2 separate regions of the Homo sapiens genome follow, and region 1 is linked to region 2. Evidence: fine-mapped expression QTL. Tissue or cell type: testis. Region 2 holds a variant in brackets; the other region holds the start of a gene. All regions are shown on one strand. Distances are from middle to middle.

Region 1 (4,128 bases), 240 kb after region 2:
TTGAGGAGATAAATGAGTCAGGAATGGGACAAAGGACAAAGTGAAGCTGAGGGATTAGGTCAGTGAGTCTCAGGATCAGTGAATGGCTATTTCAGATAGCGTTGGGTAATGTTTCATAAAAGCTGAAAACGTTTCATGACTTATTTTCTTAGGCTGTATCAAAATATTCTTGGTATCAAAATGACTAGTTCAAAACATGTACCCATTTGATCTTCATAATAACAGTGTGAGGTAAACAGAGCCTGTCATTTCCATCATAAAGAAAAGGAAACTAAGGAAATATACCCTTCATTCAGCTGGGATTTTAAAATATGACTTAATTTTTTAATGCAGTATACTGGGATAATAATGCTATGTTATTACTGCCAATAAAGAGTTTTTTGTTTTGAAGGAGCTGTTAGATTTAGAATACTCTTTAGATCCTCAAAGGAAGTATTTGAGTGACTTCCAAACTCAAAAACCTCCGGAGCAAGGGAGATTTGTTTGTCAGCTTGGTTGTTTGTTTGTTTTTAGGTACTTGAATAACTTCCTCCTTGAAAAGGAGGGTGCAGAAATCAAAGGCCTGATTGTGCTGAATCCTTCTCTTTGGTCATTATTCAGACTGGTTCCCAGCATGCCGCAGTCCAGAGGAAAAGGTCCAAGTTCTGTTTAAAAATCAGAGACTAAAGAGCTTACTCAGCATCCTGCTCACATTAATGTTGCTTGTTTTCATCATTTAAAGTCTTTTGATAGTTCCTTGTATACAATAACCTTAGGCTTCTGGGAATATTCTCAGAACATAGGAAGCACCTCCCTGACTTAGTAAAGATGAAAAATGCTTTTCATGACTATCCCCTCTCTTGAAGGACCCCCTGGAACAGCCAGGTCTTTGGGCATAATTAAATTCTGGGCAAGATTTTACAGAAATGCAGCTTCTTTTTTCTAATTTAGTTGTGTGGTGTGTGTGTGTAAAGTGGGGGAGGTTCCACTTGGTGGGGAAAGGAGAATTTGCCATTGCTGCTCGTCTACTCAGGACTGTTTCTGTTGTTGTTGTGTTTCAGCATCAGAGAGTGAGAGTGTATTGCAGCAATCTGACTATTTGGAAGACTGTTCCTTGAATTTCCCAATTCAAAAGCCTCGGTAGAGCTGAGGGATGCTTGATACGTCAACACAGACCACAAAAGGCAGGGCTTTTCTAAAGAGATTATAATTATATCTACCTTTTGGGTACAGGAGGTGAATGGAAGGAAGGGATTCTGGAGCAGATATCCCAAAAGAAGAATCCCGAAGCAGAACTCCTCGCACAAGGTTATCTAAATCTCCTTGACAGGTGCACAGGCAGAGAAGGCATTTGGCCCTTGAAGTAACATTTACTTGAGAGGTTGGGACAATTCTGTCACGCTTAGGACAAGCCAGCTGACCCTGAGCCCAGGAGCACCCTAGGACTGCAGCACAGAAAATACACCAGCTGGCCGGTCGCCCCTCCTTTGTTCCATTCCCGGGGGATTGGAGTAGCGTTGGAGTCACCGACGCCATCCCCTCCCGCCTCTGGCGTGCATGGAGCATGCGCTTCCTTCCTCACTTCCTCTGCAGGAGGGAGCGAGAGTAAAGCTACGCCCTGGCGCGCAGTCTCCGCGTCACAGGAACTTCAGCACCCACAGGGCGGACAGCGCTCCCCTCTACCTGGAGACTTGACTCCCGCGCGCCCCAACCCTGCTTATCCCTTGACCGTCGAGTGTCAGAGATCCTGCAGCCGCCCAGTCCCGGCCCCTCTCCCGCCCCACACCCACCCTCCTGGCTCTTCCTGTTTTTACTCCTCCTTTTCATTCATAACAAAAGCTACAGCTCCAGGAGCCCAGCGCCGGGCTGTGACCCAAGCCGAGCGTGGAAGAATGGGGTTCCTCGGGACCGGCACTTGGATTCTGGTGTTAGTGCTCCCGATTCAAGCTTTCCCCAAACCTGGAGGAAGCCAAGGTATGTGAACACTTTTCTTCTTCCTACCTTCCTTTTATTTCGCCACGAAAAGGTAAAGTTTGGCATAATACGTGAGCTGTAAATCACCCTGACGCGTTTTCTGATCAAATCATATCCATGAATACGGACAGAGAAATCAGTTCGAATTTAGAGACAGAAGACAGATTTTTTTTCTTCACTTTTAAAATGATAGAGCAATAATATGGGTTGTTTTTAAAGATCTTATTTTGAAAAGGGAAGGGAACCTTTTTCACCTAAAGTGGCTTGGATTGTTTTCTAGTTGCCTTACAACCTTTCTCAGACAGTCTATTCATTATATATGCAGTATATGATGAAAGAGCTTTTAGTGTGCCAATAATACCAATCCAAATTATGCTCTCTCTAGCTGAGAATAGCTGATAACCCTAGTGTTAGAACTATATGTTAAATTTCTGGTCAGAAAAAAAAAAAAGTGTGATTCTGTCAGCTCAAGAAATACACCAAGATAATAAACAAGGCAATATTGATAATTACTATTATTGTATAATCTTGATAATCTTTGTTAATATGCATTTGTTTCATAGTCATCCAAAATTATTTCTCCTAATATTTTTCCTTTTTATAAAAATTTTATTTAATAAGAGGCATATTTTGTCCTTCAACGCACAATTAAATTTATATTCACATGTGTTTATTCTAGACAAATCTCTACATAATAGAGAATTAAGTGCAGAAAGACCTTTGAATGAACAGGTAGGTCAAAAGTAACATTATGAATGCTATTTCATTTTGATTTAGTTATTATTATTTAATGTAATTATGCTGTGACATTTTGGTCATTTTGAATTTACAAACATCAGGAACTTAATAGTTAATTGACAGAAATTAGGACGGGAAATCTAGTTTTGGTAAATTCTATGCCCTAGCAGTTATTTACATTGAGTTCTGTATAATGAATACATAGAGTAACTATATAATAACCCAGTAAGCTCAGCATCACATCCACTCTGTTGTAAGATTGCCTAATTTACCAGAGATTTCTCTTTCAACAATATTATAGGAGAAAGAAATTAACACTGACTGAGCATCTACCCTTAATTTTATCTCATTTAATTATTATAACAGTGCTCTGAAATAGGAATTATCCACATTTTACAAACAAGACAATTAAATCCCATGGAGATTAAATCATTTGGCTCTTGTACTTGGTAAGTAGTGGAGCAATGATTTTAAACCAAGTCTATCTCCTGTTTGCTTCACAGATTGCTGAAGCAGAAGAAGACAAGATTAAAAAAACATATCCTCCAGGTAAAAAGAAATCATATTGATGTTAATTTAAATAATGTAGGCTATGAGAATCTGAACTAAAATGGCTGTGTTGGGTTTGGGGCTATTCTTCCAGAAAACAAGCCAGGTCAGAGCAACTATTCTTTTGTTGATAACTTGAACCTGCTAAAGGCAATAACAGAAAAGGAAAAAATTGAGAAAGAAAGACAATCTATAAGAAGCTCCCCACTTGATAATAAGTTGAATGTGGAAGATGTTGATTCAACCAAGAATCGAAAACTGATCGATGATTATGACTCTACTAAGAGTGGATTGGATCATAAATTTCAAGGTAAATGAGAAAAAAAGAACTTTTTGTTAACGTGGAGTTTCCTATAATGGGTTAAGAGAAAGTCCAATATTTTAAAAATATCTTTTAAACATTCATAATCCTTTATTAGTCAAGTCCAAAATTGAGATAAAGCATATATTTACTGATAACATGTAGAGCCCCAGCTCCACAGAGTGCCATATTTTATTTTCCCTTTAAAAATTCCTTTAGTGATGCTCTGAAAACATTTTTTAATCTAGTATTTGTATTTTATGGTATTAAATTCATTTGAACATTCAGATTTATTTTAACAATGAGTACACACAAAATATCATAATTTTCAAATAATTAGATCAGTAAAGTACCCTCCCACCCTGCACAAAAAAGGTGAAATATCCACTATTTCCTTTTCAGTGTTTCCTCCTAGCCATATCTTTTCTCCTTAGGTCATCCTAACCTTTACGTGGCTTCAATTACATCTATATCCTAACATCCCATATCACTAGGCCAGACTTCTCTTAGCTATAGACCTATTTATCTGTTTACCTATTCGACATTTTCCCTTGGCAGTGTCAGAAGCACCTCAAATTTAGCATGCC
Region 2 (4,128 bases):
GTCTTGAACTCCTGACCTCAGATGATCCGCCCCACCTCGGCCTTCCAAATTGCTGGGATTACAGGCATGAACCACCATGACTGGCCTTACTTATGCTTTAAACAATTGTCTAGGAGAGATTTAAACAATGAGGAAAAGTCTTTATGTAATTTACTTATGTAGTTATAATTGCTGGTACTCTTTATTCCTTTGAATAGATCCGTATTTCCATCTGGTATCATTTTGCCTTCTGATTCAGAAACTTTCTTTATATTCCTTTGATATTTCTTATAGTGCAGATTTGCTGGCGATGAATTCTTTTACCCTTTTCATGTCTTTATGTAAACTTCATTTTTGAAAGGTATTTTCACTGGTCAAAGAATTCTAGATTGACAGCTTTTTTGCTTCCAAAACTTCTAAAGATGTCACTCCACTCTTCTGGTTTGCATTGTTCCTGAAATAAATCTGCTGTCATCCTTATCTTTGTTCTTGTGTATGCAATGTGTCTATTTTCTCTTTGTGATCCTAACATTTTTCTCTTATCATTGATTTTAAGCAATTTGATTATGATGAGTATGGCTCTACTTTCCTTGTTTCCTGTGCTTGAGTTTCATTAAAGCTCTTGGATCTGTGGTTGAATCAAAACTGGAAAATATTTGGCCATTATTTTAATTATATTTTTCCTTTACCCTCCTCCCTCACGGACTCCAATTACACATATATTAGGATGCTCAAAGTTGTCCCAGAGCTCACTGGTGTTATTTGGTTCCAATGTTTTTTAAAAGTGTTTCCTTTTGGATAGTTTCTATTGTGCCTTCATATTCACTAATTTTTCACTCTGCAATGTCTAATCTGCTGTGAATCCCATCTAGTGTATTTTTTTATCTCAAACATTATACTTTTCATTTCTGTAAGTTTGATTTGAATCTGTGTGTCTTCCACATCTCTTCCTAACATTGAATTTTTTCTCTAGCTTCTTGGACATATGAAATAGTTATGCTATTAATTTTATCACCTGTGTTATTTCTGTATCTGTTTTGATGTATGTTTTCCCTCTCATTATGGTTTGTATTTACCTACTTTTCATGCATTTTTTTTAATGTCAAACATTGTGAATTTTACCTTGTTGAGTGTTGGATATTTTTGTATTCCTACAAATACTCTGGAGCTATGTTTTCAGATAAAATTTAGCTATTTGGCTTTTGGTCATTTCCTTTTTAGCTTTCTTAGGCAGGACCATGATAGTGTTTATCCTAGGACTAATTTTGTCCTGCTACTGCAGCAAAATCCTTGAGAGTACTACCTAATGCCCCATGAATTATGAGGTTTTCCAGCTGGTTGGTGAGAATATGAATTACAGTAGTCCCCCCACCTTATCTACAAGGGAGATGTTCCAAGACTCCAGTGGATGGATGCTTGAAACTGCAGATGGTACTAAGCCCTATATATGTGTTTTCCTCTCTATATATACACATATGATAAAGTTTAGGCCAGGCATGGTGGCTCATACCTGTAATCCCAGCACTTTGAGAGGCTGAGGCAGGCAGATCACTTGAGGTCAGGAGTTCAAGACCAGCCTGGCCAACATGGTGAAACCCCATCTCTACTAAAAACACAAAAATTAGCCGGGCATGGTGGCACATGCCTGTGGTTCCAGCTACTTGGGAGGCTGAGGTATGAGAATCATTTGAACCCGGGAGGCAAAGGTTGCAGTGAGCTGAGATCGCACCACTGCACTCCAGCCTGGGCGACTCAGTGAGACTCTGTCTCAAAAAGTGTAACTTATAAATTAGGCACAGTAAAAGATCAACAATAATAGAACAATTAATATACAGTAATAAAAACCTATGTGAATATAGTCTCTCCCTCTCTCAATTTCTTATTGTACTGTCCTCACCTATTTTCAGACCATGACTAACCACAGGTAACTGAAACCACAGAAAGCAAAGCCACAGATAAGGGGGGCCTCCTGCTGAATTCCTAGCTTTGTGTGATTAGATTGTTACCTCTAATCCCTTTCGATGGCTATTGTTCTGGGTGCCAGCAATTTGCTCATACACATACACTGATTCCTTTCTCAGCAAAATATTGAGGAAGATCTTGATGTGGTTTGACTGTGTCCCCACCCAATTTCATCTTGAATTGTAGCTCCCATAGTCCCCAAGTGTTGTGTGAGGGACCCAGTGGGAGGTAACTGAATCATGAGGGCAGGTTTTTCCCATTCTGTTCTTGTGATAGTGAATAAGTCTCAGGAGATCTGATGATTTTATGAAGGGCAGTTTCCCTGCACACGCTTTCTTGCCTGCTGCCATGTTAAGATGTGCCTTTGGTCCTCCTTTTCCTCCTGCCATGATTGTGAGGCCTCCCCAGCCACGTGGAACTATGAGTCCATTAAATCTCTTTCCTTTATAAATTACCTAGTCTCAGGTATGTCCTTATAGCAGTGTGAGAATGGACTAATACAGACCTTCTGTGTACCTCTCCCTGTGCCCCTCTGTGGCCTTTGGCCTGC[G/A]AACTCTATCCTCATTATATTCCCCAGACTCGCAGTTCTATCATCTTGGCAACTTGGAGAAACCATTAGGCTCTGCCTGGGTTCTCTCCCTGCCTGTGGCCTGGAAACTTTCTTGAGGTGGTAAGTTGGGACAATTAAAATGCTCACCTCTCAGGAATCACTGTCCCTCCCTACCTGATGCTTAATGTCTTGAGAACCATTGTTTATATATTTTGTCGTCTTCTTTCTTTTAGTTGTTTCAAGCTAGAAGGTGAATCTAGAGTCTCTTACTGCTTTTACCTGACAGAGAAAGTTCTCTTCCCTTTTTTCTGAAAGCTCCTTTGAATCAGTTTTGCTTTAGGCATTGAGATGTCACTCACAAGCTTATTTTCCTGGCTCTTCTTATCAGTGGGCATATTCTGACTTCCCTTACTTACTTAGGAGCAAGCAAATAGCCAAGACTCAGATTTGAGTTTTGGGTACGAGGTTAGTACTTCATTCAATAAACTTCAAATCTGTCTGGAGAAGGTATAGTGAGGTTAGCTCTTGCCCCGCTAAATCTCAACATTGTGTGCTTTCTCTGTCTGGCTCTCCACTGTATCCCATTTCCTAGAATGGCTTTTGGTATAGAAGGTATTCAGTAAATACTTACTTATGAATGAATAGACTGCCAAATAGCTTGCAAATTCTCTAACAGTTAAACATTTTATCAAATTAAAAATCTCAATGGTCAAAAACAGTATCAAACTAAAAACTCTAACAAATAACATTTATTTTTCTTTTACATATATATTTCACAGCCTGAACATCACATCTTCAGAGAAAGTTACTTTTATGCCATTGTATTTACTATTTACCACACAGGCATTGAACATTCTCATTAACATGATAAGACAATTTGCTGGTAAACATTTAAACACACAGACATTAGTTTCAGTATCTCAACATATTTTTGGTCATAACCAAGGAAATACATCAAAATAATGACAACATTGGCTAATATTTTACAAGCAAATATTTAACTCTGCATAGTTTATACAATAGGCTGTGGCAATAAATAATGTCACCAATCTCATCAACTATTAACTGGCCACAAGAAGCCTAACATTCATTTTAATTATGATATGAAATGCTCTATTGGTGTAGTTTCAACATATCCTTAAATGTTTGGGTGTTTAACCTTGAATACACGAAAAGAAAAAGTACTAAACTGGACTAAGAAGGTGTGTTTGGTTAACTACAAATATGTCATGTTCACATAGTACATTCCTAACATGAAGGCAAATATTTAAATAGAAAAACTAGCAGTCCAAAAAATGTGAATGTGCAAATTGTGAGTAAAACATTGCATTTAAATTTGCACTCATTTGCAAGTTACAGTACTAGCTCAGTATAAACACTAACAGGAAAAATATTCAGCAGGAAAGAATGGAAACGGCCTCTCACAGCAGAGAACTGGTCACTGCGCACTGCTCCACAGCTAAGAAAGTTTTCCAGGTGGTCTAGCGCTCCTAACAAACACCTTATGATTATCCTTCATTCAACAGAGGAGGAGACTGCAGGCATGCTTCAGTCAGTGGTAAGAACAGGAAGAAAAACCCAAATCAGCAACATTTTCTTCCTTAATTTGGTATAAACGTCCTTTTCATTATTTCAAG

Evidence for each region. PIP is the estimated chance that this variant, and not a neighbour inherited with it, causes the effect.
Region 1: SCG3 starts here. The variant in region 2 is the best candidate, but not a certain one, in a credible set for the expression of SCG3 in testis (GTEx, PIP 0.62).

The regions. Positions count from the first base shown.
Region 1 is chr15:51,679,885-51,684,012 of GRCh38, forward strand. It overlaps SCG3 (secretogranin III), which reads left to right and starts at 1,619. Exons shown (of 12, transcript NM_013243.4): 1 at 1,619-1,953; 2 at 2,633-2,685; 3 at 3,195-3,240; 4 at 3,335-3,550. The coding sequence starts at 1,872.
Region 2 is chr15:51,444,566-51,448,693 of GRCh38, forward strand. It overlaps DMXL2 (Dmx like 2), which reads right to left. Exons shown (of 44, transcript NM_001378457.1): 44 at 3,226-4,128. Among named protein-coding and RNA genes, the nearest start is that of GLDN, 100 kb to the left of the region's middle. The variant G/A (reference allele first, on the strand shown) is at 2,492.